Linked DNA regions of Homo sapiens: region 2 is linked to region 1. The links come from fine-mapping of genetic effects on gene expression. Tissue or cell type: whole blood. Region 1 holds a variant in brackets; the other region holds the start of a gene. Each region is shown on its reference strand, or each on the opposite one.

Evidence for each region. PIP is the estimated chance that this variant, and not a neighbour inherited with it, causes the effect.
Region 2: it holds the start of CCDC106, and the variant in region 1 is fine-mapped to the expression of CCDC106 in whole blood (TOPMed, PIP 0.97).

Annotation. Positions count from the first base shown.
Region 1 is chr6:107,119,664-107,122,568 of GRCh38, reverse strand. No RefSeq gene overlaps it. Among named protein-coding and RNA genes, the nearest start is that of BEND3, 5.6 kb to the right of the region's middle. The variant G/A (reference allele first, on the strand shown) is at 1,342.
Region 2 is chr19:55,647,000-55,649,904 of GRCh38, reverse strand. CCDC106 (coiled-coil domain containing 106) reads right to left here and starts at 1,693. Exons shown (of 5, transcript NM_001370470.1): 1 at 828-1,693; 2 at 596-700; 3 at 321-497. The coding sequence starts at 858. RefSeq lists an enhancer at 228-277 and silencers at 1,338-1,467, 1,498-1,617.

The DNA.
Region 1 (2,905 bases):
AGACGAAGTCTCTCTCTCTGTCACCCAATCTGGAGTGCAGTGGCGCAATCTCGGCTCACTGCAACCTCCACCTCCCGGGTTCAAGTGATTCTCCTGCCTCAGCCTCCCAAGTAGTTGGGATTACGGGCACCTGCCACCGTGCCCAGCTAATTTTTGTACTGTTAGTAGAGACGGGGTTTTGCCATGTTGTCCAGGCTGGTGTCAAATTCCTGACCTCAAGTGATCCGCCCGCTGCTTCGGCTGCCCAAAGTGTTGGGATTACAGGCATGAGCCAGCGTGCTGGTCTCTTCCCCTTCTTGTAAGGATGCCAGCCCTATCAGATTAAGGCCCCACCCTTGACCTCAAATAACCTCAGTTACCTGCTAAGGGCCTTATCTTCAAATATTCTCATTCCAAAGTGTACTGGGGGTTAGGACTTCAACATATGGATTTGGAGGGGAACCAACTCAGTTCATAGGAGTCTCCATGGACAGAGCAAGCTGCCATGGGGGTGCAGCACAGGGCCTCCATCCCAGGCTTGGGACACATGTGGCCTCTTGAGGAAGGGACTTAAGCTGCCTAAGGACTAAAGGGTGAGGTTGGGGGCAGGGCCTGATAATTTAAATGAATACAATTCTGTGAAGCACAGACCTTATAGATTTCACTCCTTGACGGTTTCTTTCTTTTTTTTTTTTTTTTTTTTTTTTTTTTGCCTGTTTGATGTTTGGTAGTAATAATTTAGAAAGTGGAACCCAAAACCATAATTCTAAAGCCCAATAGCCTTGAGCAAGCCACCCTTTCTTTTTGCCCCAGTTTCCTTAGCGGTAGAACCAGGCAGTTGACACCTATTATTTCTCAGGCCCTCATGTGTAATGACTAGAGGGAAATCCTTACATATATTCACAGTGACCTCTTAAAATACCGTGTTGACACTTCAGCAACTTGAAAAAAGGAGGCTTTGGATTCTGTAACCAAGTGCCATATTTACTTTGGGGTCATTTTTACCAGGATTTCTTCTCTTCCTTTTATTTCAGCCATAAAATTATGTAGAGAAAGGGGGGGATTGGTGACGTGTTTAAGTCTAGGCTCTTACACCAGCTGAGCATGACTTAGCTACTCTAGAGTGACTTCTGCTCTTTAGGCCATGGTAATGACTGTTTTTAGTCTGTGTGAGGGGAAAGGGCTACAAAGACGTAGATACTCATTATGGGGGAAAACAACCAAACATCACACACATGTATAACGTGAAAAAGTCCCTCTCTTCTCTCTATCCGATATACCTCGCGGTCACCTCTATGACCTCTGTATTTCCCAGAACATTTTTTTTTTTCTTTTTGACACAGGGTCTCACTATGTTGCTCA[G/A]GCTGGTCCAGAACTCCTGAGCTCAAGTGATCCCCCTGCCTTGGCCTCCCAAAGTACTGGGATTACAGGCTTGAGCCACCACACCTGGCCTCCCGGACCTTTTCCATTCACAACCCAGATACATACGTGATGTTCTTCTTGACAAAAATAAGATTACATTATATATAAATCTGTCGGCCAGGCACGGTGGCTCAGACCTGTAATCCCAGCACTTTGGGAGGCCGAGGCGGGCAGATCACGAGGTCAAGAGATCGAGACCACCCTGGCCAACATGGTAAAAGCCCGTCTCTACTAAAAATACAAAAATTAGCTGGGTTTGGTAGTGTGTGCCTGTAGTCCCAGCTACTTGGGAGGTTGAGGCAGGAGAATCGCTTGAACCCGGGAGGCGGAGGTTGCAGTGAGCCAAGATCGCGCCACTGCACTCCAGCCTGGCGACAGAGCGAGACTGCGTCTCAAAAAAAAAAAATCTGTCATTTTCTTCTTTTACTCAACAATATGTCATCAACATTCTTCCATATCCATAAAAAAGAACACCTCCCTTTCCTCTTTCTAGTTTACAGGCCATGCATGATGGCTCACACCTGTAATCCCAACACTGTGAGAGGCCAAGGCAAGGAGGATCACTTGAGCCCAGGAGTTTGAGACCAGCCTGGGCAACACAGCAAGACCCTGTCTCTATAAAAAGAGAAAAAAAAATGAGTCCGCCCTGGTGATTTGGCCTTGTAGTCTCAGCTACCTGAGAGGGTGAGGTGGGAAGATGGCTTGAGCCTTGGAGTTTGAGGCTGCAATGAGCCATGATCATACCACTGCACACTGGACTGGGTGATAGAATGAAACTCTGTATTTAAAAAAAAAAAAAAGCTTACATAGTATGTCATGGAAGGTATTTTTAGCTATTTTCCAAGTTCTCTTCGATTTCTTTGCTATCACAAATGATCCTGCAACGAACATATTTGTCTATGTAGACCTTTTTTTTTTTTTTTTTTGAGATGGAGTTTCACTCTTGTTGCCCAGGCCGGAGTGCAATGGCACGATCTTAGGTCACCGCAACCTCCGTCTCCCGGGTTCAGGCTATTCTCCTGCCTCAGCCTCCCGAGTAGCTGGGATTACAGGCATGCGCCACCACGCCTGGCTAATTTTGTATTTTTAGTATAGATGGGGTTTCTCCTTGTTGGTCAGGCTCATCTCGAACTCCCGACCTCAGGTGATCTGCCTACCTCGGCCTCCCAAGGTGCTGGGATTACAGCTGTGAGCCACCACACCCAGCGCAAATAAGACTAATCTTAACATATATCCTATCATTTAGAGTCTTTGTTTTGTTTTGTTTTTCTCAGAGATAGGGTCTTTCTCTGTCGTCCAGGCTGGAGTGCCGGGATTCCATCATGGCTCACTGCAGCCTCAAACTCCTGGGCTCAAGCAATCCTCCCTTCTCAGCCTCCTGAGTAGCTAGGACTACAGGCATGTGCCACCACACCTGACTAATTTTTTGATTTTTTTTTTTTTTTTTTGAGACAGAGTCTTGCTTTGTCGCCCAGGCTGGAGGGCAGTGGTGTGATCTTGGCTC
Region 2 (2,905 bases), not on the chromosome of region 1:
GGGGCTCTCAGGTGCCAGGGTCCCTGAAGTCACCATGGGCCAAGGAAGCAGATGGCAGGGCACTGGAGGCTGATGGGATTTGGGGAGCTGACGGAGAAGGCAGGAGGACGGGCCCCAGTAGACAGTTCATGGGGATGAGGCCCTGGAATCAAGTGAGGAGGCAGCTGGGCCTGGGGGCCCAAAACAGGCAGGGGACTAGCAGATAGGGCCAACATGGCAGGTCCCACCCAGCCAGCCAAACAGTGGAGCCTTGAGTCTGGGTGAGCGGGTACCCAGTAGCGGGACAGGGAGGCATGTGGATCAGAGCACCCCACACACACCTGCCTCCATCCGAGCAGAAGAGATGAATTTGTCCAGCTGGCACCGCAGGAAGTCCCTCTCTTCCTCCAGGTCCTCGATGCGCTTCTGCAGCCAGGAGTTCCTCTCCAGAGCCATGTGCAGCTGGGTCTTGACGCTGTTCATCAGAGCCAGGGCGGAGGACGCAGCCTCCGGAGGCTCTAGGGACACAGCGAGGGTGGGGGGACCAGGTCACACCCTGGGACTCAGGGCTTGGCTTCCCAGCTGACTCCAGTCCCTCCACACCCCCTCAGCTCACCCTCGAAGTTTCTCCGAGAGGGGCTCAGACTGTAAAAGATCTGTGGGTCTAGGTGGGGTGCCTCATCGAAGGGAATGGAGATCTCGAAGGTCTCATCGTCCTTCACTGGAGAGGAGAGGCCCCGGGTTACCCCAGAGAATTCCCCGGGCCTCTCAGGCCACCCCCCAACCACGGCAGCCTGGAGCCGACCGCACTGGGACCCAGGGTAGGGAAGGGGACCCAGCTTCCTCACTTGTCCGCCTCCGACTGCTCCGGTCATTCATGGCGCGGCTTCCTACGGACCCCAGCAGCCGAGGGCCTCAGGGGCACTGGACAGAAACGGCAGCCACAAATGGAGAGACGCAGATGGACTGGAGGGTCCATCCTGGGGGAGGTGAAGTGAGACAGGAGGGACCTTCTGGCCTGGACCCCTGGTCTGAGGGAGGAGGGAGCCTGGACCCCAGGACTGAGGCAAAACGCGCCTGGGCTTCAAACTCCTGGGCTCCTGGAGTCAGGGGCAGGGGGCCCAGCCGCCTAGGTCCTGGGGGAGAAGTGAGCTGGGGACGTGGGCTCCTGGGTATCGAAGGAAAAGGAAGCTGAAGCCCTAAATTGCTGGGTGCCCCAAGGGGTCGCCTGACCAGGGACACCTAGCCTGAAGGGGAAGGACCCTCTCTCATCGCGGGCCACTGCCAGGCCTAAGGAAGAGGCAGGTGCAGGGGGAAACTGCCCCAACTTCCCAGGGTAGGAGGAGGTCCAGCCCGTGCGCGCTGCCTCCTCTACCTTCGGGGCCCCCACACCCCTCCCCCGCACTCGCGTGGGCGGGCGGACCGTCCCCCGGTGGTGGGGGCTGGGCGCGTGCGCAGTACGGGGAAAGGTCACGCGTGGGGGTGCGCCCCCCCCGCCCCCGCCCTTTGTCCCGCGGGTGGGAGGGGGAGCGGTCGTGGAACGATTCCAGCGGGAACATGCACTAGGGCGGGGGTGCAAACGCGGCCACCATCCCCCGCCCGCGGGTGCCCGGGGTCCGAGGGGCCGAGGCCCCCCGCGCTCACCCACCCGCTCGCGGAATCCGGCTCGGGGACCGACGGCGGCGGCGCCCATGCCCGGCGCCGGGGAGCGTCTGCAAAGTGTCACGGGGAGCCGAGGGAAGCGCCCACCCACCCGCGAACAGGCGGGGCGGCAGGGGAGCGTGTCGTGGAACTGAGCGACGGAACGGGCAGGGACGCGGGGACTCGCCCAGTCGGGCCAGGCTAGCGCCCCTCGTTGAAGAGTCCCCGGGTCCAGGTGAGGCCCGCCGTTTGCGGCAGAAGCAGAGGGTCTGCACTTGCGCGATAGCCCCTTACAGCACTCCCCCGCCCTCCCCGAAGCTCAGGCAGGGAACATCACGAAATTCCCATCCTGGAGAGCTGGCGAGTCTCCGGGGGTCCCCGGATTGGGTGGCGGTGTGCCCAATGGGCCCAGAAGGCAGGAGAGTGTTTGAGACACCGAGAAAGTTGGAGCGAAAGGAGAATCTACTTTTAACGCTCTCTCAGGAACTAGCCAGCGCGGACCCCTCAGAGCTCCCCTACCTCCTACAGCCAGACCCCAAGGTTCTCAGGGATGTGGGGGCCAAAATCGGGGGAGTTACCCCTCTCCCGGAAAATGAGGGCCAGGAACACGCCACCCCCATCCCCATGTTGGTAATTAAGAGCTGGCTTTGGAGCAAAGCTAGATTCCAGTCCTGACTGTTCCTGCTCCTCCCCAGCCTGTTAACTCACCTGCAAAATGGGGAAATTACAAGCCCTTCTAAATTTATTGTGAGGATGCAGTGATGCGACACACAGAAGCTCAGCCCAGCACCTGGCCATCGTCAGGGCTGAAGAGAGGAGCGCTGCTGGTATTATTTGAGGTCAGATGGTGGGGTATGATGGCAGCCTCTGGGAGGCTCTTTCCCACTCTGGGGAGTATGAACGGAAGATTTGTTCTTCCTCCCAAAAAAACAGGTCGGAAGAGCAAATGAGGCCTAGCACAGTGCCTGGCACAAAATAGGCAAGAAAAATGAATGAATAAGCAGATGTTTATTAAGCTTCAGGCTCAGCTCCACCTGCCTCTCCTGTTCACCAGAAGCATCCAAGCTCTGGACTGTGGCCAGCCCTTATAAGAGCAAGGTCTTAACCCGATGGAGGGAGAATCTAAATGTCTGCACCGCCTGCAAAGCTGTGACCATGATCCTCCCCTCCCCACTTTACAGATTAACTGCAGCCTGGTCCAAAAATTCCAGGGGGAGCCATCTGCCCTAGATTGGTCTTTTCCAAACTACAGGTTCATGGGTGGAGAATTCAATAGAATAGGATG